Linked DNA regions of Homo sapiens: all the other regions are reported to be linked to region 3. The links are microRNA targets in miRTarBase. Many come from high-throughput screens and were not tested one by one. Region 3 holds a microRNA gene; each other region holds the end of a gene's coding sequence.

The links. The annotated mature microRNA hsa-miR-128-3p reads UCACAGUGAACCGGUCUCUUU and lies in region 3 at 2,129-2,149, shown strand. An mRNA with a match to its seed (bases 2 to 7 or 8) in the 3' UTR can be bound and repressed. Matches are read on the target gene's strand: a 7mer-m8 pairs with bases 2 to 8, a 7mer-A1 pairs with bases 2 to 7 and ends in A, and an 8mer does both.
Region 1: miRTarBase lists GAS7 as a target of hsa-miR-128-3p. The part of its 3' UTR that is shown has no 7-base or 8-base seed match.
Region 2: the mRNA of HAL is a reported target of hsa-miR-128-3p. Seed matches in the 3' UTR shown: 7mer-m8 at 4,407-4,413.
Region 4: the mRNA of GCNT2 is a reported target of hsa-miR-128-3p. Seed matches in the 3' UTR shown: 8mer at 4,082-4,089 and 7mer-m8 at 3,818-3,824.
Region 5: the mRNA of ABHD17C is a reported target of hsa-miR-128-3p. Seed matches in the 3' UTR shown: 7mer-A1 at 1,052-1,058.
Region 6: the mRNA of EN2 is a reported target of hsa-miR-128-3p. Seed matches in the 3' UTR shown: 7mer-A1 at 1,237-1,243.

The regions. Positions count from the first base shown.
Region 1 is chr17:9,912,871-9,917,960 of GRCh38, forward strand. GAS7 (growth arrest specific 7) reads right to left here. Exons shown (of 14, transcript NM_201433.2): 14 at 1-4,471. The coding sequence ends at 4,358. Among named protein-coding and RNA genes, the nearest start is that of RCVRN, 10 kb to the left of the region's middle.
Region 2 is chr12:95,969,646-95,974,728 of GRCh38, forward strand. HAL (histidine ammonia-lyase) reads right to left here. Exons shown (of 21, transcript NM_002108.4): 21 at 3,017-4,727. The coding sequence ends at 4,587. Among named protein-coding and RNA genes, the nearest start is that of HAL, 24 kb to the right of the region's middle. RefSeq lists enhancers at 460-1,105, 1,106-1,751.
Region 3 is chr2:135,663,318-135,668,407 of GRCh38, forward strand. MIR128-1 (microRNA 128-1) reads left to right here and starts at 2,080; the gene lies at 2,080-2,161. All of the region lies in intron 19 of R3HDM1 (R3H domain containing 1), which reads left to right. It overlaps LOC124907893 (a long non-coding RNA gene), which reads left to right. Exons shown (of 2, transcript XR_007087245.1): 1 at 1-3,240; 2 at 4,444-5,090. RefSeq lists an enhancer at 1,398-1,497.
Region 4 is chr6:10,625,774-10,630,853 of GRCh38, reverse strand. It overlaps GCNT2 (glucosaminyl (N-acetyl) transferase 2 (I blood group)), which reads right to left. Exons shown (of 5, transcript NM_145649.5): 5 at 1,486-4,437. The coding sequence ends at 4,247. Among named protein-coding and RNA genes, the nearest start is that of C6orf52, 66 kb to the left of the region's middle.
Region 5 is chr15:80,753,347-80,758,436 of GRCh38, forward strand. ABHD17C (abhydrolase domain containing 17C, depalmitoylase) reads left to right here. Exons shown (of 3, transcript NM_021214.2): 3 at 805-2,275. The coding sequence ends at 1,024. Among named protein-coding and RNA genes, the nearest start is that of CEMIP, 23 kb to the right of the region's middle.
Region 6 is chr7:155,461,851-155,466,850 of GRCh38, forward strand. EN2 (engrailed homeobox 2) reads left to right here. Exons shown (of 2, transcript NM_001427.4): 2 at 521-2,981. The coding sequence ends at 837. Among named protein-coding and RNA genes, the nearest start is that of EN2, 6.2 kb to the left of the region's middle.

The DNA.
Region 1 (5,090 bases), not on the chromosome of region 3:
TCCCGGCAAGGAGAAGGAACAAACCACACGCACACATCATGAATGACTCAAAAGCATTAAGCTGAGGGAAAGATGCCAGACTCAAAAGGCGACATCAGTGTGACTCCATTTATATGACATTCTAGAAAAGGCAAAATTATAGGATCAGATAATCAATCAGGGTTGCCAGGGAAAGAGGGCAGGAGAAGGGAATTTTTTGGAGGGTTAAAAACAGGTTGATCTTGGTGATGGTCACAAGACACTAAATTTGTCAAAATTCACAGAGCTGTATATTTCCAAAGGGTGAATTTTACTGGATGTCAATCATACCTCAATAAACCTGGGAAAAGGTGGTGGCGATGGGCCTTGTAGGGATGGCAAGGATTATGGGGATAAGACGATGTCCAGGCTACGTGGGGGGGCAGCTGATCTGTACCCCACTTAACATTAGAAGTGCTCTCTCCGACCTACACAAGGAATGCATCTTGAGCCTTCTGTTTAAACACTCCTTGTCAAGACTACCTGCAGCTGGAAGTAAAATCACCTAAACAAGCCAAGGTCGCTGATGTCCTTCGAATGTTATGGCTTGTATTTCCAAAAGGGACTTTGGCTCAGCCCAGATTTTTCTGCATCCATCCACTCATCTAGTAATTGATTGGTTTTCACAAAGGGTAGGGAAAGAAACCCCTGGTTGGTGAATTCGTTGGTACACTGTTTCGGTGTGCCCAGCTGTTTATCAATCCTGACTAGCAGAGCACTGCCTCCCACCGCAGAAATTCTCCTTGGCCAACAGGGTGCTGAGTGGAGGTAGAAAGGAGGCCCAGGGTGGTCCCACTGACAGAATCTCAGGGCCGCCATCCCCACGGTCCAAGGGGCCTATGTGTTGCCACTGACTGAAAGCACTAGAAAGAATAGAGGGTAACAAGTGGCTCTTCCTGGAGGTTGTCACAGCAACCAACTTGGAACACCATTTGGCTTAAGGAATTTTTTTTTTCTTTTTAAATCAGGCTTTCACAAACAGATCTTGTGCATCAGTCTCCTGGGTGGAGGCAGGTAGAAGGGGCTGACTTGTTCTCAGAAATGGAAGGGACATTCTCAAGAATAGCCCAGACCCGCCCACTTTGAATAAACCCAGCTAAGTCCTCACCTAAGCACCAAGACATAAAACAAAACAACAACCCGGATAGCGTGCTTGCCTCTCCAAAGTGCAGTCTTTTATTTTCTCAGTTGCATCCTAACCTTGATTTCAACCAGAAACGGGCCCCTGTTCATACGGATAGGGGTTCTGGACTGTTGACTCTAGCCCTGGTCTTAATTCACTGGCAATTTCATAGCCTCACTGGTTACCCTTGAGCTTCACTTTCCTATTTGCAAAGAGTTATTTATAATTTTTTTGAGATGGAGTCTTGCTCTGTCACCCAAGCTGGAGTGCAGTGGCCCGATCTTGGTTCACTGCAATCTCCGCCTCCCAGGTTCAAGCGATTCTACTGCCTCAGCCTGCCGAATAGTTGGGACTACAGGTGTGCACCACCACATCTGGCTAATTTTTTGTATTTTTAGCAGAGACGGGGTTTCACCATGTTAGCCAGGATGGTCTCGATCTCCTGACCTCGTGATCTGCCCACCTCGGCCTCCCAAAGAGCTGGGATTACAGGCGTGAGCCACCGTGCCCGACCCTTATTTGTAAAGAGTTATTTAAAGCAAACAGAGAAATTTCTGAAATTCGAATTGGATATGGGCCGTGAGGGTCTGGTGACCAGGTGATTAAAATCTTGTTGCTGTCTACCTTCCATCCAACAGGTAAATGCCTCACGACGGTGGTTTATATTATAATAAAGAATCCCAGAGGGTTAAGTGTGGAGAGGGTACAATGTTCTTATTATACTCTTCTCAGTCGACATGGAGAATAGAGGAGAGCAGAGGAATGCCCATCTTACATACAACTAGAGCGCCGCTTCTCAGCATGCCTGGCTTGTCTTGAGCATTCGCTGAATGAATGCAGATTAATCAGAACAACAGACTTACCTCTGAAAACTTAAATTCTGTAGAGTGCCTATGTATCAATGCCAAGGTTGCTGACCGGTAAGACCCCTGAAAACGAGCGATCACGGGCTTCCCTGACGACAGGGCCATTATAGTGTCCTCAGATTAGATCTTAGCACAATGGCTTTAACCTGCTTGATGAATGAATAACAGAGGGAAGAAAGAAAGGAAGTACGTGAAGGGGGTAAAGAGAAGGAGGTGAGGGGATGAGGGGGGAAAGAGTGACCTCCAAAAATGGACTGGCCCAAACTGGGCCAACCTGAGCTACCCTGGAAGACGCAAGAGGGCTCACTCTATCCCAGGGATGAACAGAGGACTCTGGAATCCTCAGATGTAATGGAAAAGTCAATGAGCCATATTGTACTCAAAATATCTTGTTAATAACAAGGCTATTGGCTTTGAATGTTTGGAAATCATCCACAGAGTAGTTTACTAAGCCACAAAGCAATTACCACTAGCACCCATTTTTCATAAAGAAACCAAGAAATAATATTCTAAAATTGGTAGCTGGTGTCATGACCCAACCCCAGATCTGGACAGAGTGGTTCTCCATCCCATGGACAGATCCTACCAGGAGGTCTTCACGTAGGTGAAGGCCTTTGTGCTGACCTTTTTGGTTGCAATGTTTCAAGAACAAGAGAAAAGTGACAACGTTTGGTTTACTTTAGTATATTAGGCATTTTTCTAATGTGAACTATACGAAAGCAATTCTCATTCAATGAAAGAGGCGCCAAAAAATTAGAGATTAATAAGTCATCGGTTTCTAGCACGTTGACTGAAAGACCAGTGAGTTGTGCTTGTTGAATTCTGCCCTCACTGCAGATGTGCAGGTCAAACCCAAAGTGGTCAATGGGAAAGATGAAGAAAGATGGATTTCCAGGGCATGGGCTCCCGACTAGAATCTGCCCCTCGCTCATGCTTCTCCCGGCCCCTTTAGACTCTTTAGACTGACATGGTGGAGAATGTGTTTGCTGTGGTAGAGAAAGGGAGAAAGTAATGAGCTGGGCCAAACAGCAGCACTGAAAGCTTCCCAAGTCACACTCAGACCAGACTTTTCCAGGGATTGGAAGATGGAGAGAGGGAAAGGAGGTGCAGACACCAAGTAAGGGTTTGGTGCAGGGCTCTGGAATGTCCAGAAGGAGCGGGAAGCAAAGGTGGCGGGACACTGCCTGAAAGGCGACAACCTAGTGTGGCCACAAGAGAGTCTGCTATGCCTGTCCAGTGCCCACCAGTGACAGAAAACTGTACAAGGGACAGCAGTCCCAGCCCTGCCATACACAAGAAGACAGAGCCATCTGGGGGATGGCAAAGACTTGCCCTAACCCATCTCACATGTAGGACTGACCCGGCCCCATTAAGAGCCTGTGGTGGGCGGCCCGGGAGAGTGGGGGCCAGGGCAGCCCAAAGGTGCACAGGGCACCGTGGCGGACAGGCCCCAGCTTGCTGGCCTCTGAGACGAGCTGGTTTGTTTCCATCCCTGAAGCCTTTGGACGAGCTGGATGAGGTCTTGATAACTGAGAACTTTGGAAAGCTTCCTCTAATGAGACTGGGAAGGGCTGGCAGGGTGGGGGCAGGGGCCTCCCCGAGGAAGCAGCTGGGGGAAGGATGGATTGGCATTTCCAGAGGAGACTTTACAGATGGCGCCTGATCTCATGGGACACGATTCAGCGCTCAATTTGGGGCTAATTTGCCGAATGAGGTAGTTCCATCCTGACCTCTCCAGGCATGGTGGGTCTGGGAAGACAGGAGCCAAGCCTTCCTCCTAAAACCCCTGGTGATGAACAGTGGCTGAGAAAGCCAGATGTGGACTCCCAGAATGCAATGGGAAAAAAATAAAGAAGGAGGGCTGCAAAGGATTCTGGGTGCGGCTGTGAGCTGAATGGCACCTTCTACCCATGATTCTGATCCTGACACCTGGCTTAGAGACAGAGCCCTCCCTACCCTGATCCTCCAAAGCCCTGGAGACAAGGGAGCCAGCTGGAGGAAGAGCCTTGGGGCTTCCAGGGCACAAGCATGTGACAGTGACCCCTACAAAACTCGGCAAGGACCACAAAGTTCCAGCCTCTGTTTGTTTCAGAGCGGCAAGCACAGCATGGGAGTCAGGGGGTCTTCAGCCTCAGAGACAAGGGCAGGGCTGTGGGTCTGTCTTCTGGGCCTGGGAATATGGGGGAGCCCCCAGCTAGGCTGTCCGGGTCACCCTTCTGGAATCACCAGCTCTCTCCCCTCTCCTCAGTGGCCCAGGAGAGAGGGTGGGGGGCATCCACTCGGCATGGGCCCCATGGTGGGAGCCCAGCCCCCCTCCCCAGCAGGACCCCCCGAAGCTGCACAGGCCCATCTAGATCTCCATGTCCACAGGGCGGATGTTGCCCGTCTTGTGCTCTCTGACCCACAGCTCCCTGTCTTTGGCCGGGTCCACTTTTCGAAGCAGCTGATCCACGGGCTCGACTGTCTGCAAGAGACAGAGAAAATGCGACACTGTTAGAGACGGCGGCCAAGCCAGGGAGGTCTCCTCTGAGACATGCTGTCCTCACCTTAGTGTCTCTGAGAGCAGCCTCTCTAGAGGGCTCCGGGGCCCCAGGGGGAGGCCCATCTGAGGGACAGCACATGAAGAGGGCTGTGAACGGGGAACCCAGTATGCATCCCGACCCTGCTTCTCACCCTGCAGACCCCAGGCCTGGATGAGAGGCCAGGAGGGCCTTAAAACCTGTCTCTATCCCTTCCACCCCACATTTACCACCAGTGAACAGGACAAATAAAACTTGAGCTTTAGGTATTGTGAATATTTCTAGAAGTTGTTTTTTTTGGTTTTGTTTTTTAAGAAATTTAATAATGTCTTCAGCTACTGTAACTGTTACGAGCTTCTTTCTCCTCAGGGTAACAGCTCACGTGTGTGTCCACTTCATGTGCCAGGGTCGGAATCACACAGACGTCCAGGACAATCCTGAGAGGCCCAGTCCACGAGGCCACCCCCAGGCCAGAGCACCTGCCCACTGCCCGCCTTTAGGGCAGATTCACTTGCAGCAGCCACTTAACCTGCCACGGCCTAGCGCCAGGCGGCTCTCCCCAGG
Region 2 (5,083 bases), not on the chromosome of region 3:
AAATACACCAATCAGCACCCTGTGTTTAGCTCAAGGTTTGTGAGTGCACCAATCAACACTCTGTATCTAGCTGCTCTGGTGAGGACGTGGAGAGTCTTTTTTTTTTTTTTTTTCTGAGACGGAGTTTCGCTCTGTCGCCCAGGCTGGAGTGCAGTGGCGCAATCTCGACTCACTGCAAGCTCCGCCTCCCGGGTTCACGCCATTCTCCTGCCTCAGCCTCCCGTGTAGCTGGGACTACAGGCGCGCGCCACCATGCCCGGCTAATTTTTGTATTTTTAGTAGAGACGGGGTTTCACCGTGTTAGCCAGGGTGGTCTCGATCTCCTGACCTCGTGATCCGCCCGTCTCGGCCTCCCAAAGGGAGAGTCTTTATGTCTAGCTCAGGGATTGTAAATACACCAATCGGCACTCTGTATCTAGCTCAAGGTTTGTAAATACACCAATCAGCACCCTGTGTTTAGCTCAAGGTTTGTGAATGCACCAATCGACACTCTGTATCTAGCTGCTCTGGTGGGGCCTTGGAGAACCTGGGTGTGGAAACTGTATCTAACTAATCTGATGGGGATGTGGAGAACCTTTGTATCTAGCTCAGGGATTGTAAACGCACCAATCAGCGCCCTGACAAAACAGGCCACTAGCCTCTACCAATCAGCAGGATGTGGGTGGGGCCAGATAAGAGAATAAAAGCAGGCTGCCCGAGCCAGCATTGGCAACCCGCTGGGGTCCCCTTCCACACTGTGGAAGCTTTGTTCTTTCGCTCTTTGCAATAAATCTTGTTACTGCTCACTCGTTGGGTCCACGCTGCTTTTATGAGCTGTAACACTCACCACGAAGATCTGCAGCTTCACTCCTGAGCTCAGCAAGACCACGAGCCCACCGGGAGGAACGAACAACTTCAGACGCACCATCTTAAGAGCTGTAACACTCAGCCCGAGGGTCCGCGGCTTCATTCTTGAAGTCAGTGAGACCAAGAACCCACCAATTCCGGACACAATCACAATGGGGTCTCTGGAGCTCTGAACCTCATGCGATTATTTAAGAAGTCTTGAGACAGTGTAGGGGGCACACAGTTGCTGTGTGTGATGGCTCCCCTGTGACCAGTCACCTAGGCACTGAACATTTGGGGCGCAGGAGATACACATAAAAGCCAAAACGGAATGTTAGGTCGAGTCTTCCCTGGAACTCAAGCAACACAAGATTAGATTCTTCTATTGAAGAAACAAGAAGGAGAAGCACATCTGATTTTTCATCTAGGAGGCACTCACTTTAAACAAATAGCATTCATGCCTTTTTTGAAAGAAGACAGAAAAAGACATCTACCCAAACTGCCCTAGTCCTCCCAGGCCAGCGTGCTGCAAGCCCGTGCAACTGACGGAGTTTGCTAGGAATGCAGAACCTCTGGCTGGACCCAGACCTGCTGAGTCCGAATCTGCATGCTAATAAGCCCCGGGTGATTCACATGCACATTAAGGTCTGAGCAGCTCTGAGTTCTAAGCCCTAATCACACCAATCTTCACACTGTTCCTTAGGGGACAGTGAGCTGCTCAGGGCCATGCAATACGGTTCCCTCTGCCCAGAATGCTTTCCTTCTCTTCCTTACATGGGAAACTGGAGCTGGACGCCCTTCCCCACATTCCCACATCTCTATGATAGCCTTTGTAGCATTGTAATTTAACTGTCTTTTGTATGTTAGACTAATGAAGTCTACCCTCTGGGCTGAAACTAATGTTCTCCAACTATTTTTTACATTTACATTTACATTTACAATGTTTACATTTAATAAATTAATACTCTCAACAAAAGTAAGCAAAAAGGCAAAATGAGTTGGGAGCAGTGGCTCACGCCTGTTATCCCAGCACTTTGGGAGGCCAAGATATGTGGATCCCTGGAGGTCAGGAGTTCAAGACCAGCCTGACCAACATGGTGAAACCCCATCTCTACTAAAAATACAAAAATTAGCCGGGTGTGATGGCGCATACCCGTAATTCCAGCTACTCGGTAGGCTGAGGCAGGAGAATTGCTTGAACGCAAGAGGCAGAGGTTTGCAGTGAGCTAAGGTAGCATTATTGCACTACAGCCTGGGTGACAGAGCCGAGACTCCATCTCAAAAAAAAAAAAAAAAAAAAGCAAAATGAACCATAAAGAGAACCATAAAGTTTAATAAAAAGCAATCCAGTGACCAGACCCAAAAATCAGACACAGGTTTAAAGCAGTATGAAATGTATCTGCTTTTGAATTTTGCCGGTTGTAATGACTTTTTTTTCTTTTTCTTTTCTTTTTTTTCTTTCTTTCTTTTTTTTTGAGATGGAGTCTCACTCTGTCACCCAGGCTGGAGTGCAGTGGCACGATCTTGGCTCGCTGCAACCTCTGCCACCCAGGATCAAGCAATTCTCCTGCTTCAGCCTCCCGAGTAGCTGGGATTACAGGCACCTGCCACGGTGCCTGGCTAATTTTTGTAATTTTAGTAGAGACAGGGTTTCACCATCTTGGCCAGGGTGGTTTTGAAATCCTGACCTCGTGATCCACTCACCTTGGCCTCCCAAAGTGCTGGGATTACAGGCATGAGCCACTGCACCCAGCCTGTGATGGGATTTTATGCATGTGGTAGATTGTCAGATACAGGCCCATGGATCACGTCAAATCACATGCCCATGCCCTTGAGTGTTACCCTCCCAAATTGACTCTGGGCCTGGAACGTGACTCGCTTTAGCCAACAGGACATTAGCGAACGTGGCACAACAGGGACTTGAAAAGCCCTTGTTCTTTAGGGTTTGCCTCCTCCAGCTGCCCTGAGACAACTTGTGACAAAGACCAGGTGAGCCTGCGGGGCTGGGGAGGAAATCCTGATACCTCCAACTCTTTTGTTGCTAGCCAATGGGAAAAAGAGTGTACTGAGTCAAGCATATTGTTCTTAAAACGGTTGACATCTGTCAACTGAATCCTTCAGAAGCTTGATTAACTGCTGTTAGAGGCGCTTAACTTTGCTATAAATACCTAAGAATAAAGCGACACCATAAGGCAATTGAGACTTAGTTTATTCCATGTTTCCCTTGAAGTTCCCTTGAAGGCGTGTGCTGTCAGTTACTAATAGAGCTGTGTAGAAAACTCAGTGACAAAGTGTCATTTTGACCTGGAGGGCTGCAGGGGCTGAAAGAATCCAGCATTCCCCAAACTGGAGCGAAGAGCACCATGAGACCACTGGGGGTTACTGGCTCAATGGCAGCCCACGGATGACAATGCACAAACCTCATTTGTGTGTGTTCACATTTTGACAAGGAATAGCACCAAGAACAACCTTTAGGTAAACAGTCTCCTCAGCACATTTTTTGCTCCCTGAATTGCTGTGTGCAGCAGTTTTCACTTCAGTTTCCACCTGACAGGTTGTAAATCTAAAGGGTGAAAACTCTATTGTGAAATCCACTGTTCGGCCCATTTTAGATGGCAATTAGGTAGGCAAGGTGGCAAGTGTGTCTGTCCTCCTCTCCACCAGCTGTGGTTTTTAGAGCCACGGTTTCAGACCACTTGAAGGGCCTTGCACATATATGCACACACTGGTGCAAAGTCACAGAGCTTAGACTTGGGAAGCCAAGAGGTCATGTGACCCATCCTTCATCTGGACAGATACACTTAAGCCATCCCTGAAGGTCCTTTATCTTCTCGGGGAAAAAAATAGATGCAGTAATACACTCTAGGGCTCCATCTGACCTTTATCAATAGGACTTATTTTAATGATTACCATTACAGAAAGGAGGTTGGTTAATCCCCAAAGATTCCTTATCTGTGAAATGAGGAAGGTTACAATAAGAATGTGAATAGAGTACTAACACCAAGGAAGTGAAAATACTAACCTCAAACTCCCATGTAAGCATTTGGGGGATACGTGTAGTGATAAGTACAAAATACACAGTTTAATAAGAGCCACCCAAATAGCAATCTTTATATTCATTCCTTATCTCCTTTGCACATGAAACTCCTTGTTGGTTTTAATCACCTCTACAATTAATAGCTGAAGACCCTATTGACTACTCTTTACTATGATCCAATTAATAGAAGAAAAAAGCAGCTTAAGGACAAATTATGACTTAAAATGGTTATTTATGAAGGCATATTAAGGCATATCATGCAAAGTAAAATTAGCCAAAGAAAGTCAACTGGTGGAGAGCTTGTTGAAGCAAATTTAAAAAAAAAAAAAAAGGTTAACAAAAGTCTAATGTTTTTAGAAAAAATTGCTATCAATCTGTTTCCAAATTTGAATTCATCTAATGCTAAGAGTAAAAAACAGGCACATACAATTGTGGTTATTCTTCTCACCCTTAAGAGTGAGTGGCCTGTTGAAACTGTTAAGAAAGAAAGAAAAGTTTTATAATCTGAAAATACCTGGTGGGTCTTGAACCACGACAACAGGAACACAGTGCTGAATTTAGCAACTATAATACTGCCATCAGCCTAACCAACGTAGGCTTTAGAAGAACTGAATGATACAATGGATTGATCTACCTAGGAAAGTTCTCAGGTCTCTCCTTCAGCCTAGTATTGCTTTGTGCTAAACTGACTGCCCTCTCATCTGCTACTTCATGACAAAGCCCATTAAAGGTCCTCAGACTCCGGGATTTTGGTGGATTTCTTGTGCAGAAATTGCAGTGAAAAGGCTGTTGGAGAAAGAGGTCTTGATTCTGGAATATGCTCCATTCTGTATTTTTCAATGTATGGAGCAGCTACTTCCCAAACCTGAAAAGCAAGGACAAAACAAAGTTGAAATATTGACGACATTGTTTCCACATGCTATTAAACATCAACTTCATCCGAAGTCAAAACATACTCTATACATGACCAGACACAGCTGCTGTTTGCTTGCTTTTATTTTAAGCCATTTGACACATGACCTGTGTCAATTAGTCTTTGGTTGCATTAAAGACTGTAAATATACAAAGTCCAAAACTTTCTAAAGTCATCATAAAGATTTTAAGCTGCATACTTTTCCTAAGCAAAACAAGCAAGCAAATAACAAAACCCAGAGAATTCAGTGTGGATAGAGTGAAGGATAGTTGCTCCAGGGTCTTAACAGTACCTATGTGGTTTTTTTC
Region 3 (5,090 bases):
ATAGTGCTACAGGCACAAAAAAGAGAATCATGTCTTTGAAAAATGTTTGACATTGTGTTTGACTCTTATGAGTCAGTCATAATATAACACTTTATAAAAGCTAGACTTGTCCTTTCAGCTGTTTTATATAGTATCCTCTTAACTTACAGCTTAAGTTAGTTGACTCATTCAGTTTGAAGAATAAAAGGAATAAATCCTCAAAGCATTCTTATCTAAAAGAGAAAGGAATTTTGTTATGCTAATAAGTATCATAGAAAATTTTCCTTTAAAGAAAAGTTCAGCAGGGCCAGTGCCAACTGTTGTGTTGGTAATTGTATTGAACCTTTTCATAGAATTAGTGGGGATTTGAACTCTTTTTTAAAAGTTATAATCTAAAGACTTTTTTATAGTTAGCTCATCATTAATTTTTATGTCAAAACTTGCAGAAGGCCAGGCACGGTGGCTCACACCTGTAATCCCACCACTCTGGGAGGCCAAGGCGGGTGGATCACCTGAGGTCAGGAATTTCAGACCAGCCTGGCCAACATTGTGAAACCCTGTGTCTACTTTAAAAATACACAAAAAAAATTAGCCGGGCATGGTGGCGCACACCTGTAATACCAGCTACTCGGGAGGCTGAGGCAGGAGAATCGTTTGAACCTAGGAGGCGGAGGTTCCAGTGAGCTGAGATGGCGCCACTGCACTCCAGCCTGGGCAACAGAGTGAGACTGTCTCAAAAAAAAAAAAAAAAAACTTAACAGAAAAGTGTGCATTTATGTTTGTATGTGCCCTAGTGTAGAAAAGTAAAATGTACTGGGAAATTAACATGATAGTTTATTGTTTTTGAGTTTTTTTACAGGTATATAGCAATTACTGTCTCATAATTTACATTTTTATATGGAAACATACTTCTGGGTTTCCTTTTGGTTTTTATTTTCTTACCTCTCTACATTCTACTATCCCAATCTGATTAAAAATGAGAAATACTTTTTCATATCTCTTATATTTGTATTTCTTGTCAAACAACACTTGCTTACCCCACAGTGTCAAGAAGCATGTTTTTTTTTAATTACATAAAAGGGTGAAACTAATTATTCAACCAAATAATGAAAACACTAGTAGACTTGGAGCAATTTTTTTTCACTGTGGCACAAGTAATGTTTAAAAGTTTGTATTTGAACTTAAAGAAATTTTGCCCTAAATTAACAAGCCCAACTGAGCAAAGTATTTTTAGACCAGATAGGGTATGGGCAGTAGAAATACAGGATCTTTCATTATTTTTCCTTTGGTGGATAGGGAGGAGGATGGGGAAATATCTCAAGGATAAAATGCTCTAGGTCTTTTATCCATGTGTCCCAGTGGACCACAACTGAAATCAGGACTAACATTACTGCTGGGGAAATGAATGTACTAGTCTTTTGTTATGAATGTGAAACTACTGAACTGTTCATTCAAAACAAGGTTGAGTAAACCCCTGTCAACAGAAACAGAAGAAACCCTGGCTACACACATAAGACTTTCTGAACAATGCACTGTATAATGGGAAAGAACAACAAAATAAAAGTCAGAATCCTGATGGCCCTTAGTCATTTGTAACTGGTGTTAGGCATATCACTTAAAGCCACTGAGTTTCAGTTGGACTCATTTGCAAAGTATGGAATTTTTACTGTGTTGTCTGTTGAAGCCTCTGTGTACTGTAAAACTCCATAATTCTTTGTGTCTCATGTGAGTCATTTCTAGTTCTAAAAGGTAGAATAATAGAGAATTGGTTTGTAACAGCTTGGCAACCAACTGTCAATAACTGGAGTCAATGAAAGCAACTATTTCAAAAGATCAGATTACTTACCAGTTTCACTAATAAAGATTTATTACTTTAAACCTTTATCATAAAATGTATGCTTTGAATACTGTGAAGTACACTGCATATAAGGAGTGTGGTATAGTATAAAGAAACTTTCTGCAGGTAGTAATTATAGTGAAGATTTTAGGTTTACAAAGCCCTAGCTGTTTTCTGTGTAGCTTTTATTATTCTTATGACTCTTGACAAGTTTGTAGCTTCACCATATACATTTAATATTTTGCAATAATTGGCCTTGTTCCTGAGCTGTTGGATTCGGGGCCGTAGCACTGTCTGAGAGGTTTACATTTCTCACAGTGAACCGGTCTCTTTTTCAGCTGCTTCCTGGCTTCTTTTTACTCAGGTTTCCACTGCTTTTTTGCTTTTTTTAATGCTGTATGAAGGTGTTAACATTTGTTTATATTTTTCATTAATTGTAATACCTTTAAATCATGCATCATACTCAGAAATAGGGATTAGAATTTAAGTGACATCTTTGGCCTAATATAATTTACCTGTTAAAAATTTGTGAAAGCTATTGCTTATTTCTTTTCCAAAGTAGATTTGGATGACAAATTCAGTTTGGTTTTGAGCTTATCTAAAAAGCTTAATGTTTTAAGCATACCAAACTCATTAGCAGAAGTCAAATATGTCTCTCCCTATTGCTACACAACTTTTTAGGGATATTGTTATATATGAAAGCATGACATCAAACGGACCTAATACACCTAAATGCATTTGAAGCTACTTGGTCTCGGTTCTTACCAACGATATAATTTAATTTTTTTTTCCAAACGATGATGTTGTTGCATACCTGTGGAAAGCAAAATGATTCTGTGAAACTATACTTTTAGTTTTGCAACCATTTGATAACTTCAAAGATTATCAATGTATTATATCTTTAGTCTTAGCTTTCCAGATAACCCAGAATCATATGGTTCCAAGTTGATTAAGCTTTGTTACCAGCAGACTATGGTAGGATCCTGATGAACGACACTATGGAAGAAACTTGTTAGGATAAACAGTCTTCAATGTGTGCATATTGTTGACAGAATTTGAAGGCACAAATTTAAGAGTAACTAGGGTGTAAAAGGCGAGCAAAGAAAAGTCAGCACTACTGGGTAAGCAGGTGAGGGGGCTTATTGATAGGAGAGTCGGCTATGTCAAATAGGGACTCAAGGCACAAAGTCAATTTCTTTACTGACAACTTTCAATCCAAGTAATAGGAATTTTGTATTTGTAAATTACTAGGTAGTGGCTCTGGCTATTCTTGTTTTTTCATTGATTTCTGTGAGCATTTCTTAGTATGTATTGTGTGATTCAGCATAGATTCAGACATTGTATAATACCTACAAATCCACCTATTTCCCTTTTCCCTTCTCCATTAACCTGCCGCCACTGAAATCTGGAGCCAAATATATCTGGTAAGTACCCACAGATTTCCTTGAGTTGTATAGACTCTTCCATGGAATAGTTCTTTAAATAGCTGTGAGCAATAAACTCTGTGTGACTGTTTTTGTTAGAATTGGTTTTTGTATATGTATATGTTTATTTCAGGCACAGGAGTGAGAGAAGAGGGGATGAGAGATGAGAAGGGATAATCAAGTGTGATGGCAATTGCATCTCCTTCCAAATACACCCATGGGGCTGGCTTTAGTTGAACTTGCCCACCTACTAAAATAGTGCCACAGACAGAAGCCCAAGATTATAAGCTTGAGGTTTTAACAATTTGGTCTTGTAGATGCCTAGTTACAAATAAATTTGGCTTTAGTAAAATGGCTCATCTTTAAAAAAAAAAAAAAAGAAAACTACCTTCACAGTGCTTCTATTGTACAAGCACAGTCTGGAAAAAAAATTAATAGGTACTATTAAGTGAAATAACCTTAGATTCATGGGTATTCTAAGCATTTCTTTAATACTTTTTGTAATTTTTCTGATTATTTCTGTGTTATTAAGAATGCTTTCCTTTAGAACAAATGCTAGTTCAGATCACCTATATAAAATAAAATCAGCCTGTTAATGCCTGTTCAATACTTTTGTGCTGAGCACTGCATTTCCTTCCTGCTCTCTTCTTGGTTAAAGTGAGAGTTAAAAATAGAACATTCTGTGGAGCCCTCCAGGGAAGTTCCTGAACCATCAGTTTATATTGTCCTAGTTCTCTTAGCTTGCAGAATTGATTGTGCTTTCCTCTGAAAGTGCTGAAAGAAATGGGATAATATTGCAACAGTGCAGTCCTTTAACAAAACAGAATGGTAGTGTTTTAAAAAAAAAAATCTATGTTGAGATCTGGATATTTATTTTGTTGTTTGGTATCACTTACTATTGGCATTTCTTACTTTACAAAATAGAGGCTTTCCCACAATATTGACGTAAATTCCTATAAAAGATATAGTGTTTTCCTCTACTTTCCAGATTAAATTCAGATGTATCACAGGAAGAATTTTTTTTAATTCTAATATACTAAAATATACTTTTTAGTGAAGAAAGAATAATTTATGTGGTAGCCAAGTTGGAGTCGGGATACTGGAAATACTCTTCTTGTAGCATTTTTGAAACCTGTTGATACTTTTCATTCTCTAGAAATCTACTTCTCCTTCCTAATCCTCAGCCTTCTCCCTCTTTTCCAGATCATTGGATTTTTCTTTCTCAAACTTGGCAGTCTTCAAACTATACTTTTGACACTATGAGAACTCTGTACCCACTCTTGCTTTTGTCTGAATAATTAGACAAGGAACCTAACCTACAATGCCACTTCTCTAGGTGTCACTCTGTAACGGTTCATGCCCAGCAGTCTGAAATTTCTTTGTTTAAACAAAAGTTCAGAGGAATTCATGAGCAACTTGAACAGTTCAAGATGTAAATTTTATTAAGCAAATGTACATAATGTGAGGCATACCTGTAATTAAATGATCCTTTATTTTATGTTAACAATTATTTTATTAATGATTTTGTCTTACATAGGCAAGAGTAAGGTTCTTATCTTTGATTGGATTAGGAGAATGATGTGGGCTTTTTTGTTTTTAGTGCTTTCCAGCTGAGTATTTCTAGTTTTGCTTGTGATTATAGTAATTTTAACCAACATAGATCCCAGTTTTATTTTCTTTTTCATTGGAACAAATGTTAGCCTGTTAATGCCTGTTGAGTACTTTTCTGCTAAGCACTGCATTAGAAAAAGACCAATAATCTTTTAGTAATCTTTAATGTTCTGCTCTTTAGAGAATATAATTCAAAATTATATACTTTTTAGCCAGTTGCTGTGTTGTATGTTATAATT
Region 4 (5,080 bases), not on the chromosome of region 3:
AGTCATATGTGGCTATTTAAATTAATTAAAGCTGGCCAGGCACGGTGGCTCACACCTGTAATCCCAGCACTTTGGGAGGCTGAGGCAGGCAGATCACCTGAGATCAGGAGTTTGAGACCAGCCTGGCCAACATGGCAAAATCCCCTCTCTACTAAAAACACAAAAATTAGCTGGGCGTGGTGGCATGCACCTGTAGTCCCAGCTACTCAGGAGACTGAGGCAGGAAAATCGCTTGAACTGGAAGGTGGAGGTTGCAGTGAGCCGAGATTGTGCCATTGCACTCCAGCCTGGATGAGTCCCCTCCATCTCAAAAAAAAAAAAAAAAAAATTAAAGCCAAATAAAATGTTAAAGAATATTTCCCAATCATACTAGCTGCATTTCAAGAGCTCATTAGCTTATGTGAGTGGCAATTATATTGGGCAGTGCAGATGTAGAACATTTTTATCATTGCAGAAATTCTACTGGACAGCACTGCTATAGATTATATCAGTACACTGAGAAAGCACTTGACCAGGTGTGGTAGCTCAAGCCTGTAGTCCAGCACTTTGGGAGGCTGAGGCAGGTGGATCGCTTGAGCCCAGGAGTTTGAGACCAGACAGGATAACATGGCAAAATCCTGTCTCTACAAAAAATACAAAAATTAGCCATGTGCAGTGGAACATGCCTGTGGTTCCAGCTACTTGGGAGGCTGAGGTGGGAGGATCACCTGAGCCCAGGAGGTTGAGGTTGCAGTGAGCCATGACTGTGCCACTGCACTCCAGCCTGGTTAACAGAGTGAGACTCTGTCTCAGAAAAACAAAAACCAAAAAAAGCAAATAAGTGATTATGTCTGGAGAAAGTAGTGCACTTTTTATTCTATATTCTTCATTATTTCCATGTTTATGAGCATGTATGTATTTATTATAGTTTAAAATGTTTTTCGCTTTAGCTTTAAAATATTTTTATTTGAAAAAATATGATGGATAAGATGTCCTTTAAATGATTTTTTTTTTTTTTTTAGTATTGATCATTTTCCATGTGTCTGTTAGAGGCAATATTTATCAAACTTACAATTGAAATGCTGCTCAAAAACATTGGCACTTGATCAGTAATTATGGTAATATTAACATAAAACTTTTTCCTAATGTATATCTTGATTTTTTTAAATGAACAATAGAGGCAGGTAAATAATAAGTTAACTTATTCCTGTCTCAAATTTTAAAAATACTTGTACTCTTACCAAAAAAAAAAAGTTATACCCAATTCAAATGACACTGATCTTCTATTGCGCCCTCTTCTCTCTATCACTCCCAGTTACTCTCTCCAACACCCCACAATGGGAAAGTTTAATGATTTTTCAGTGGATGGATGTTTCTTAGACAGGTATGCATGTATGTATGAATGAATGTAAATTTTGTTTAACACCAGGAGAATTGCCTTGTTAGACATATCCTTTAGTGGATTTTTAACCAATTGTCATATAAAAATACACAGTATCCCCGAAGTGGAAAACAATATATTAATTTATTCCCAAGAAAACAAAACATGGAACCTCATCGAAAACAAACATCAGATACAGTAGTTTCAGGGCATTCCCATGGGCTGTCAGAAACCCACTAGCCCAAACACTATGCTCTTCCAACATTAAAGTATTTAAGACACAGGAGAGATGACCAACAACAGACATGTAAACATCAATTCCAGAAAGATTTCTTGTTCTACATGAGAAACATCCAGTGTAAAACGGTTCCTCTTCTCAGGTGCTGTCATTTAAATAAGTTGAAAAGAGACAATTTTTAAACTCCACTGCTGACCCTGAGTGCATTCGCTATCCCCTCACCTATTTTGTTTTGGGACAAAGTCTCGCTCTGTCACCCAGGCTGGAGTGCAGTGGGGCACTCTCAGCTCACTGTAACCTCCACCTCCTGGGTTCAAGCGATTCTCATGCCTCAGCCTGCCAAATAGCTGGGATTACAGGCACATGCCACAAAGCCCGGCTAATTTTTATATTTTTTAGTAGAGATGGGGTTTCACCATGTCGGCCAGCCTGGTCTGGAACTCCTGGCATCAAGTGATCTACCTGCCTTGGCCTCCCAAAGTGTTGGGATTACAGGTGTGAGCCACCACGCCCGGCCCAAGCCAGAGGTCTTGTAAGGGGACTCATCCCATCATGAGGGTCCTACCCTCGTGACCTCATCTAAACTTCCCTTACCAAAGGCCCCATCTCAAATACCATCACATTGAGGGTTAAGGCTCCAACACATGAATTTTGGGGGGACACAGTCCCATCTATAGCCAATGGCAGTTTGTGCTTGGAGCCCACTCTGGTCACCTTAGTGGGACTGGCCTCTGTGCAAGTGACAGGTTTTCACATGTGGCCTTCAAGAGTTCCTTGTGTGACCAGCTGTCCCTATTCCTTAACACTTTACCACCCAAAACAACTCCATTTTTTTCAGTAGCAAGAAAAAAGGTTTTACTTCAAAGTCATTCCCTTTAAATATGATTGACATTCAACAAGCACAGTTACAGAAAAAAAATAAAATTGTGTTCATTAAATGTGTCATCCATTTGTAGTAATTGCTTTTTGTTAGAATAAATAAATATTTAGAAACTCAACGGTTTAGTATTACAGGAATACTAAAGTAGACTTCACATTTTTTCTGAACTGACAGGACTTTTTCTCAGTATTAACACTGAGACCATTCTTAAAATCTACCTTCTCTGGTATACTAAATATGGCTTTATTTCACCTTCTCTCAGTAAATCCACCTCAGGAAATGAACTGAGAAGACCAGCAACAGAGTCCCAATTCTCACCCAGAGAAATTGTTCCCCGGTGCTATTAACCTTTCTAAGCCTCAGTTACTTCATCTGCAAAATGGGAGTAATTATATAAGGGCCTCACAAGACTGTTGTGAGGTTTGAATGAAATTAGATACATAAAGGAATACCAGAATGGCTGGAACACAACAGGTCCTCCCTCTGTCTCCTCCTTTCTCCCTCTCTGTTGAATAATCTCTGATTTAACCCTTAATTTGTAATTACTGATCTCCTGGGCCTGGTATCATGCTACACAGCCCTGTGTGTTCCTGTATTAAACTACAATCACTCTGTAAGATTCTCCAGAGGAGGCTTTCTGGTGTTGACATTATTGCCAAGATTTTTAGAGTGAAAAAGCTCTTATGTTTCCTTTTTGTCTCAGTACATGTCCTGTACATAATAGACACTCAAGAGATGTTGATTGAAGGCTGAATGAATGAACGGATGGATGAATGAGGGATAAATAACAGAGATGTTCATCTACAATTGAAGGCTCTTAAAAATCGAGCCACTACTATCAGTACCAGGCAGTGTAAAGCTACTCAGAGCATACTATGGTGCAATTAAAAGCCTCACAGGATAGAATTTGGTCTCCATTTTGCAAGTAAGATAATACTGGGGAGAGAGGGGTCATAGAAGAGGAAAGTGTTCCAGACTTCAGACTAGATCTATGTGATAGCACCTCTCTTGAATGCATATCTCCATTCTTGCAAGGACTTTTTAGTGTTCTTAATGGAAGACATGACATAGGGACCAGCCTACATTCTGGCATATAAGAGAGAAATGTTTTATTCCCCGAGGTCCTTTTACTGAAGCAACAGACAGTGAATTCTGTCTTAAAGCATATCCTGTTTCTTGTTAATGACTTTATACTATATACAGAACTTTGTCCATGAGTAAGCCAAAAATGCTAGTGTTGAAACTCAGAAACAAGATGTATTCTCCATTCAGGTAGCTTATGTTTTAAAGGAAATTGGTGAATTACCCAGAAAGCTGTTTCACTATCTGTCTGGTTGAGCACAGTGGTGACTGTTAAGGTGTTATAAAAGATTCCTTCTTCAAAGAAACCTAATTCTTATTTTCCTAGACAGTATTATCTACAATTCTCTTTTTTACTAAAACATTTGTATATGATGAGTATCTGGTGCAAAGATCTGAGGTCATTTAAATTTATCATTGATCCTAACAATAAACTAATATAGAGGTGAGCATCAAGAAACAGCAAGACTAAAATTGGCCAAAGTGCCCAGATTGCTCTACCCAGCCATCCTGTTAGTGTATTTCACAGTGTCCAGTGGATATTTTAAGTATAATTACGTAGCCAGGTCCTGAAGCTATAAACGTGGTCCTGAAACGGTTAACATTACGAAGGCAAAAGTCTCTCACAAAAACAGGCTCCTCTTCCCAGCTGCAGTTTCCCTTCAGTCATGAGTAGCTCATGAATAGCTCAAAAATACCAGCTGGGTTGTATCGCAGTTTCACTCTGATTGAGGGTTCTTTCGCGATGCCTCAGTTCTAGGCATTCCACAGTAAGGGGGTAGGTATTAAGCTCAAACTTGTTAGCAAACAGGCTTGGTGAATTAACCAGCCACTTTAAGTCTCCGTTTCCATAGATACAAATACCATGTACATAGTGGCCTGCAAAAGAAAGAACAAGAAACAGAGTCAAAACATGCTTGCTTTCAAAAGGGTGATGAACTTACAGAATACTAGAGGTACTCTCCGACTAACTACAACTGTGCCAATGGTACAGGATTCAAATGAAATATGATTGTGCAGTCTCAGCCCACAAAGAACTGGAACTCTATTTAGAAGAACAAGAGGTACAAATATGTTATTTGAAAAAAATGAGAGTTAAATCATACAAGGCATAAAGTAACAGGTGTTAATATTTTAATTATGTTAATTATTGTGTATATCAAAATTAATATGAAAATTGTGTTAGTAACATAATAGGTGTTACAAGGTCATTCATGTACAGTAATCCCCCCTTATCTGCAGTTTTGCTTTCTGAGGTTTCAGCTACCCGAAGTCAACCACGATCCAAAAATATTAAGATATTTTGAGAAAGAAAGAGAGCATATATCTTTTATTACACATAACTTTTTTATTCACAGAACTTTTATTCACATAACTTTTATTACAGCATATTGTTATAATTGTTCTATTTTATAATTAGTTATTATTGTTAACCTCTTACTATGCCTACTTCAAAAATTAAACTTTATCATAGATATGCATGTACAGGGAAAAACAAAGTATATTTAGAGTTCGGTACTGT
Region 5 (5,090 bases), not on the chromosome of region 3:
CTGGAACAGGAAAAGGACATTAGTGGAAAAACTAGTGAAATCCAAATAAAGTCTGGAGTTTAGTTCATAGTAATGCACCAACGTTGGTGTTTTAGTTTTGACAGATGTATCACGGTAATGTACAATGTTAACCTTACAGGAAATGGGTCAGGAGTATGTCAGGGCACTGTATTATCTTTTTGTTTTGTTTTCTTTTCTTTTCTTTTTTTTCTTGAGACAGAGTCTCACTCTGTTGCCCAGGCTGGAGTGCAGTGGCACGATCTCAGCTCACTGCAACCTCCCACTCCTAGTTCAAGCAATTCTCCTGCCTCGGTCTTCCGAGTAGCTGAGATTACAGGCATGCACCACCATGCCTGGCTGATTTTTGTATACACTGTATTATCTTTACACCTTTCCTGCAAATTCAAAATTATTCTAAAATGCAAAGTTGATTTAAGAAAAAAAACTAAATTACCAGAAAAAAATAAAGCAAGAAAAAGCCAAACTGTTATGATATGTTAATGTAGGTTCATCAAAGGTACTGCTGTGGTAGGGGATATTGATAATTGGGGAGACTGTGCATGTGTGGGGACAAGGAGGTATCTGGGAAATCTCTGTACCTTCCTCTCAGTTATGCTGTGAACCTAAAACTGCTTTAAAAGATAAAGTCCTTAATTTAAAAACAAAACAAAACAAACAAAAAAAACCCACGGTGTTATTTCCCTGCCTGTGGAGATTATTAACTTATCATTAAATGTGATGTGTATTATCTGTGAGCATAACTAATGGAGTCCTCTTTCTGCCTCCCCCCTTTCTGTTTTGCAGCATTGACAAGATATCTAAAGTCACCTCTCCTGTGTTGGTCATTCATGGTACAGAGGATGAGGTCATCGATTTCTCCCATGGCCTAGCGATGTACGAGCGCTGTCCCCGAGCCGTGGAGCCCCTTTGGGTTGAAGGGGCTGGGCATAATGACATAGAGCTTTATGCACAATACCTAGAAAGACTAAAACAGTTCATATCTCACGAACTTCCTAATTCCTGAAGACAACAACTTGATCTTACCTCATTTACTGTGAACAGAAGAGTCCTCTGTTTTGCACATGCTTTAACTGGGTAGCTGTAAAGGCTTGATAACCATGAAGAAGTGCCCAACCTTTAGGGTGTTCTAATCAAAGAGCTGATGAAATCTCAGTCTTTTGTATCTAGAGGTGGTTCTGCTAATTCACACAACACGTTAAACTGAACAGTCGTGATTCCCAGCTTCATTACCTTGCAGGAATGGGAATGAGAGCTGAATGTAGGGACAATTTTCTAGTGCTGTATAAAGTAGCCTCGCATCTGTTTCTCAACCTTATCCATCATTTCTGACATTCATGCAGGACTTGCCCTGTTGCCACCAATGTTCTCGGTATTTCACATGCAGCTCTCTTTCTGCCACTGGATACATGGGTTCAATCCATTTGTGAAGCTGTGATAGTGTAACTGGAAAGCTAGTGTGGTGAAAATTCCTTTATTATTTTTTGTTAACATGCTGATCTTTCCCGGACAAATGAACTGAAGGGTAATTTACTGGAACTCTCGTGTACAGCTTCATCAACTGTAACCATATAAATATAACTGGAATATTCTTAAACAAAAAGAAACTAGGGGTTTTTTTAAGTGTAAATTTATTACTAGCCAACAGAGTTTTACTATTTTGATTGTCTGGTTGGTTTAACAAAGAGCCTAGCTGACTTTCCTTCTGTAAAGTCCTCCTTGTAGGCTTTTTTAAAGTACTGTACATATTTGCAATCACATTGTGCATAGATTCTTAATGGTAGATATGATTTCTTTTGTCAGGCTACAACAATGAACTGCAGATTCCTTGTTTGTAATGTAAATGATTGAATACATTTTGTTAATATGTTTTTATTCCTATGTTTTGCTATTAAAAATTTTATAACATTTCCAAGACAAAAATTCCAAGTTTATGCTTTGAAGAATTTATGTAATTAAAATTTCACTAAACTAATCTTTTTAGTTTAGGAATTATTTGGGTTTTGACACTGGAAGTTGCGCCAAATAAGCATCAGAAATAGGAGATGCTTAACATTGCTATACTACTTGTGTTGGTTAGGGGTTTGGATTTGGGGGTTCTTTGGTTTTAATTTTTTTTTCCACATTTAAAAGCCTTAAATGTACTGTAAGCCTCAGATCGTTGTACAACTGGACTGCGGTTGATTGCCAGTTTGTGTACTGTTGCTTGGATGCGGCACAGTGGTTGGTAATGGAATAAAGGATGCATGGATCAGAATGTGTGGGCTTGTGCAGTTTTTTTCTTCATCTCTCCATCAAAGAAAATAGTGAATAAGAAAACAACTTTTTGTCGTAATGTAGGAAGAAAACCTTGAGGCTTTCAAACTGCACCATCTTTCTCAAGGTATATGGTTTTGTTCTATAAAAGGCCTTGGATTACTTTTGGAAGAAGCCAAGATATAAAGCATATAGCAGTAAAGTGCAGATGATATCTAAATAGAGGATGCAGTGGATTCTGGCTATGAAACAAAATTGATGAAGGTGACCTCATTGTGACCTGGCTCAGAGGAAGGACAGTGCCTCTTTTGTTGGGAAGCCTGAAACAGGTGTGTTCCATAGTTTTCAGCCCTTTGACCAGCTGAGCAGAAAAGAGCAGCTGAGGGATGCTAGTTTTCAACTCTTGGAACGCACTCTCCTAAGGGTGCATTAGGAGGAAGTGGTGGTCAGGAAGGTGTGAAGACATGAGTATGCACATGTGAATGCATGCATATGCCAGCTACTTCCTGATCTTGAATCAGGTGGGTGGGGCTGGCTTACCCGAGGGGGCATCAGCAAAGCTCCAGTGGTGATGCCTGTCCCAAAAGTCTGGGAGACCTAGGTAGGAAAAAGCACAAGCAATGACCTGCCTTTGGGGCCAGAGACCAGCGGGTCAGGGTTGCCAGAGACCTGATTTCTGATTCTATTTGTGTGCTGCTTGCATCTTCTGTAATCCTTACCCCCCTTTTTTCTCCTAAACTATTTAGTAAATTTCTTTTCATCAGCCAAATATCGGGAAATGATAAGATTGACAATAACAGAAACTAAGGTGGCAAAGCCTTTTGCTTCATTGGTTTTGTCACTTGATGTGGATGGTTTGTATCCACTGGAAGCAGCTCGTGCTTTGCCAAAACTGAGGAGGGAAGTTTCTCCAACTTTTGCCAGGGTTTGGCATGGGAACGGCATTCCTCTGAGAATTGCATGTGTGGTAACAGTGGGAACCCCAGGGAGAAATCCTCTATTGGTTTCTGAGAGACACCCCTCCTGAGCTGCAGGCTTTTTCTAGAGCTGTTCTCCATTCAGACCTGGGGCCGGATTCCAGGTGTTTGGTTTCCACTAAGTGAGGATGCGTCTCCTTTCTGAGTGCCTTACTATTTCTTTCTCCCTAGTCAAGAAGGAAAAATTAAGTGGCTACCTGAAGTCCTTGCAAAGTATAGAGAAGGTATATGTATTGTTTCTAATATATGAATTCGTGCCTTACGCTTGTGGAAATCCGTTTATAACTATTAAAAGCCTAGAAGTAACATTCAGAGCAAGATATTGTGACCGTATTATTATTCATTCTGTTGATGATTATTATGCTTTATGATCCCTAAAATTAAGCAGAGTAATACAGATTTGGATCACTCATTATAATCGCATGAGAATCTCAAATCCTAATTTAAATGATTGTAGCATCCTTTGAAAACAAGAATGGAATGATTGCTACTGTCTCAAAATAGAATGAGTCTATAGTTTAAAAAACAAAAAAAAAACCTGTTAGCACTCTTGTTCAAGACTGAATTTTGAATGTGAAAATCAAAGGTTTGAAAGGGCAAATGAATTGTCAAAATACTCTTTTTGGGAACATTTCTGTGACTCTTGGTGTGTGGAGGAGAAATATAGAATCTATAGACTTCGGGGCCTTGATCACTTCAGGAAATGATCACAAGTGTATTAGCCTGCACAGAACAAGAAGGATCCCTTCTTAATGTGAGGGATCACCTTGGGTTCCAGTTGAAAACTGAATGCCCCCTCTCTCAGTGCTCCCCTTTCTATAGGTACCTGCTACTGCCCTATCTTAGAACTAGGACTTGAAAGTGCAAACACATGAAGAGGGTCTGTCTGTTCTAGTCTTTTTCAGGTGAGCCTTTTCAGAGGGAGGATTAGGACCATATCTAATCTGTCTTTGTATCCAAGCTGAGTGATTTTGACCTCGTTCCCTAATTTCTCTGGGCCTCTGATGCTTTTTTTACCCCTTGTTGACCACACGTAGGGCACATAGTCATTAAATGAAATCATGGCTATGCAAATACTGTCCATTTTTTGCTTTATTTTCGACACAGAGTCTCACTCTGTTGCCCAGGCTGGAATGCAGTGATGTGATTATGGCTCACTGCAGCCTCAACCTCCCAATCCTCCCATCTCAGCCTCCCAAATTAGCCACCGTGCCTGGCTAATTTTTATGTTTTCTTGTAGAGGCAGGGTTTCGCCATGTTGCCCAGGCTGGTCTCAAACTCCTGGCCTCAAGCGATCCTCCTACCTCGGCCTCAAAGTGCTGGGATTACAGGTGTGAGCCTCCACGCCCGGCATTTTGTGCTTTGTAAAGCACTGTAAATTGTATTACTGGCAGCAGAGCTACTTAAGATGAAGCTCTCAAAAGAGAATAAAATGATAACATTTGAAGAACTAGGGGAAAGCAAGCACCAGATTATCTTCCAAAAAGTATACTAGGCCCAGGCAGTTATAAGAATAAATTCCTTCAAACTATTAAGAAATAATTCCATAGTATATTAACAGTTCTAAAGGTGCGTGCATGCGCACATCCATTCATACTCAAGAGACTAAAGTGGAGCTCACATACAGAGGCAAAAGTGCTAAACAAAATACTGCAAAATCAATCCTCTATCAAAAGAACAAACAGCATGATCAAATTCGAGTTATACAAACACAGCATTAGGAGATAATGTTACTTTCTGTTTGCTAGTAGTAACTAGTTAGGAAATATCATGGCCAAAAGACCTCACTTACAATAGTACCTCACTTAGAATAGTAACACAGAAAACATACTCAGTGCA
Region 6 (5,000 bases), not on the chromosome of region 3:
GGCCCACCTGCCCCTGATTCCCACAGCCCTTGGCACCCTGTGGGGTATCCCCATGAGGGTCCCCATCATAGCCCTCAGGGCGCCTCCTGCTTCTGTGACCGCCCTGCAGCCTTTCCCAGTCTTCTCTCCTCCCCTCTCTCTCAGCACCTACCGCCATCCCTGTTCCTGAACAGAGAGCCTCAGAAAGGACTAGGAAAAACCAGGCCAGAAAGTGTGGGGAGTTTTGCTTACATCCAGGAGTTTTACTTTTATCTAGAGACCCCTCATTTGTGGTCAGCCTGCCCACTAGGCCTGCCCCATAGTCCCACTTACATCACACGCAGTCCTCCCTCACCAAGTGGTGGAGGTCCGCGTTGAGCCCATGCCCAGTCCGAAGTCTAGCCCCACATCTGGCGGTTCAGCCTCGAGTGGCCTTGGGCGAGTCACTTCCCTCTTGGGGCCCCAGAATCCTTACCCGGTGCCTATTGGGTGGCACACCTCTGGGTAACCTGACTTCTCTCTGTCCACCGTATCTACCCAGGTCCCAGGTCTCGAAAACCAAAGAAGAAGAACCCGAACAAAGAGGACAAGCGGCCGCGCACGGCCTTTACCGCCGAGCAGCTGCAGAGGCTCAAGGCCGAGTTCCAGACCAACAGGTACCTGACGGAGCAGCGGCGCCAGAGCCTGGCGCAGGAGCTGAGCCTCAACGAGTCACAGATCAAGATTTGGTTCCAGAACAAGCGCGCCAAGATCAAGAAGGCCACGGGCAACAAGAACACGCTGGCCGTGCACCTCATGGCACAGGGCTTGTACAACCACTCCACCACAGCCAAGGAGGGCAAGTCGGACAGCGAGTAGGGCGGGGGGCATGGAGGCCAGGTCTCAGTCCGCGCTAAACAATGCAATAATTTAAAATCATAAAGGGCCAGTGTATAAAGATTATACCAGCATTAATAGTGAAAATATTGTGTATTAGCTAAGGTTCTGAAATATTCTATGTATATATCATTTACAGGTGGTATAAAATCCAAAATATCTGACTATAAAATATTTTTTTGAGTTTTTTGTGTTTATGAGATTATGCTAATTTTATGGGTTTTTTTCTTTTTTGCGAAGGGGGCTGCTTAGGGTTTCACCTTTTTTTAATCCCCTAAGCTCCATTATATGACATTGGACACTTTTTTATTATTCCAAAAGAAGAAAAAATTAAAACAACTTGCTGAAGTCCAAAGATTTTTTATTGCTGCATTTCACACAACTGTGAACCGAATAAATAGCTCCTATTTGGTCTATGACTTCTGCCACTTTGTTTGTGTTGGCTTGGTGAGGACAGCAGGAGGGGCCCACACCTCAAGCCTGGACCAGCCACCTCAAGGCCTTGGGGAGCTTAGGGGACCTGGTGGGAGAGAGGGGACTTCCAGGGTCCTTGGGCCAGTTCTGGGATTTGGCCCTGGGAAGCAGCCCAGCGTACCCCAGGCCTGCTCTGGGAAGTCGGCTCCATGCTCACCAGCAGCCGCCCAGGCCCGCAGCCTCACCCGGCTCCCTCTCCTCACCCTCCTGCACCTAACTCCCTCCTCCTTCTCCTTTTTCCTCCTCTTCCTCCTTCCTCCTTCCTCCTGCTCCTCCTTTCTTCTTCTTTTTCTTCTCCTCCTCCTCCTTCCTTCCTCCTCCTCCTTCTCTTTCCTCCTCCTCCTCACCAAGGGCCCAACCGTGTGCATACATCGTCTGCGTCTGTGGTCTGTGTCGCTGTCCCCAGTCCCACCGCAGTCCTGCCGCAGGCCTAACCCTCCTGCCCTGGGCACTGCCTCCATGCAGAAGCGCTTCGAGGTTCTGGGGCTAAAGGCCTGGGGTGTGTGGCCTAAAGCCCAAGAGCGGTGGGGCGACCCTCCTTTTGGCTTGGCCCCAGGAATTTCCTGTGACTCCACCAGCCATCATGGGTGCCAGCCAGGGTCCCAGAAATGAGGCCATGGCTCACTGTTTCTGGGCGGGCAGAAGGCTCTGTAGAGGGAGATGGCATCATCTATCTTCCTTTCCTTTTTCTTTTCTTCCCTATTTTTTTCTTTTTTTCCTTTATTTTTTTCTTTTCTTGGAGTGGCTGCTTCTGCTATAGAGAACATTCTTCCAAGATAAATATGTGTGTTTACACATATGTCTGCATGCATGTGAACACACACACACACACACACACACCAGGCGTGTTTGAGTCCACAGTTCTGAAACATGTGGCTACCTTGTCTTTCAAAAGAACTCAGAATCCTCCAGGATCTAGAAGAAGGAAGAAAGTGTGTAAATAATCATTTCTTATCATCACTTTTTGTCTTTTCTTGTTTTTTAAAATATACATTTTATTTTTGAAGGTGTGGTACAGTGTAAATTAAATATATTCAATATATTTCCCACCAAGTACCTATATATGTATATAAACAAACACATTATCTATATATAACGCCACACTGTCTTCTGTTTAGTGTATGGGGAAAGACCAATCCAACTGTCCATCTGTGGCTGGGACAGCCCAGGGGGTGTGCCCACGGCTGACCCAGGGGTGTGCACACGGCTGAGCTGGGAGTCCCGCTGGTCTCCCTGAGGACTGAGGGTGAACTTCGCTCTTTGCCTTAAACCTCTTTATTTCATTGCAGTAATAGTTTTACGTTGTACATAATAGTGTAAACCTTTTTAAAAAGGAAAGTATAAAAACAAAAGTTGTAATTTAAAAGTCTGAATAACCATCTGCTGCTTAGGAAACTCAATGAAATGACATGCCTTTTTAGCAGGAAGCAAAGTTGGTTTCTGTTTTTTGTTTTCTTTGTTGTTTTAGTTTATAAAACATGTGCATTTTACAGTTCCAGTATCAAATATTTATAATCTTATGAGAAATGAATGAATGTTTCTATTTACAACTGTGCTTATCAAAATTGTGAACACCCCCACCCCCGCATTTTTGTGTGTTGAAATTCTTGAAGGTTACATTAAATAAAACAAAATCTCTTTATTATAAAATACTGAAGGTCCCAGGTGGAATGATGAGTTTTCTAAGCATGTCTGAGTCCAGAGGAACTGCCTGGGCATCCTCCCCAGTACTCAGGTGCTCATGGCCTTCGCCCCGCCTGGGAGCAGGTGCCAGGTGCCTTTGTAGCGAGAGGTGATTATTATTTTTTTTTAAATAAGACAGTTTGGATATGTCACATGTGAGCACAGAATAACCAAAAGAAGTACACATTTTGTTACCAGGAGGAAGTGTTCAAAACTACGGTGCTATTCCAGTGACTACATTTTTTTAAATTTTGCGAAGTTCAACAGGTCTCCCTCCGGCTGGGTGCTCACTGGCCCTGCCACCCGTGCTGGACCGAGGCGCTTTCCCCTGGGGACAGGAACTTTTTACTCCACTGAGACAAAGAGACTCTCCTTTTCAAAGTGTCATTTTTGTTTACCTTTTGTTGTTTCCCCCCCAAAACAAAAGACTTTGTACAACTTCCTAAGCAGGATTGGGGGAGGGATCAGCTTCGCCTGTGCTGACCGCGCCTCTGGATTCCGCTCATCAGGAAGTGTTTGGGGTCTTTGAGCGAGTGATCTACGCGTTGAATTGCTGTTTTTCCAAACTTTCATGGCTTAAAAATTTTTTTTCTTCTCCCTGTAAAAGAAACTCAGAGACTGGTGATCTGTTACCGAAGACGACTTTTTAGGCGTTTTCTGTTTCCCCAGGCAGCTGGGCCGTTGGCGTTCCCAGGCGGAAGCGGGGCCTCTGGGCTGGGCCTCTGCCCTGCCAGGAAGCGGTCTGGGGGCTGCCCCTCGGGATTTTCAGAACCCTGGAAGGAGAGAGCTGGGGTCTCACCGCGGAGACTCCCGAGTTCTCGTTGCCTGGGCCCGAGCTGCGCCCCAGGGTCATCGCTGATGGCGCGAGACCACGCATTCCCCGCGAACCCCGACTTCTGAACAGTTCAGAAAGTTCGTAGATTAAAAACCAAACAAAAAATACTGGCACAACTTCTATTGCCGTATTGGCCTCTCTCTTATTTTAATAAAAATACGGTAACATGAAGCGATCATTTTTTTAAAAATCTGTTTTCAAAGTATAACACTGAAAAGGGGCAAGGCACAGCTTTGTAAGGTAATGAGTTCCCCGTCCTCAGAGGTGTTCAAGCAGACGCTAGGCTTACAGTGGCATGGAGAGTGTTCTTTCTCTTTGGAACTGGATGAGTCCTCAGACCCTTGAAACGCTGAGTTTTTTTTTTTTTTTTTACTCCTATGTTTATTACATTTTAATCCAACAGCATATAATCTAAGCTGCTCCCTCATGGAGAGCCGCGGCTGTGCCACCTGCCTGCTTTCGCCATGGAGACCGGAGTCAGGCCTGCAGGGAAGTCGGTGCGCCTTTCCCAAGTCCTCTGCCCGCTGGTTCCTCTCGGGCCTCCCGGGCTCTGCGTGCCGCGGATCTGGACCCGGACTGCAGACACCGCCCCACGACTGGGCCCCCGGCCAGACTGTTACCCCACAGGAGGAGGGTTCCCTAAGTGTGCAGAAGAGGAAAGCTCATTTATAAAGTCCTTGCTCCTTCGAGCTGAACGACCCCCGCGCCCGAGGCCTAGCTGTGTCCCCGCCGGGCCCAGGCTGAGCTTACTCCACACTGCTCCATAGCCGGGCAGAGACTCCGCGAGGGTCTGGGAGTCCTGGCCTCGGAGGACCCGCCGCCCTGCAGGCCTGCCCAAGCAGGCGCCCCCGCGAGAGTGCGGGACAGAGAGGGCCTGGCGGGGCTCCTTGGCGCTGAGAGCCCTCCTTCTCCGCTGCACCCAGCTCTGCCAACGGGGCTGGATGAGTGGGGGCTGGAGTCAGAATCCCAGGGTCTACACCCGCCGACAGCAGCAATGCCGACCCGCCCTGCCTTTCTCCTAAGGAGCGGAGGGAAGGAGCCATGTGAATGACCCCAGCCTGACCACCAAGAGGGCGCCAGCATTTCTGTTTTCCTAGAGTGAAAAGGTCAAATCGATGGGGGCTCCTACACCGCTGGACACAGGTGCGCCCGG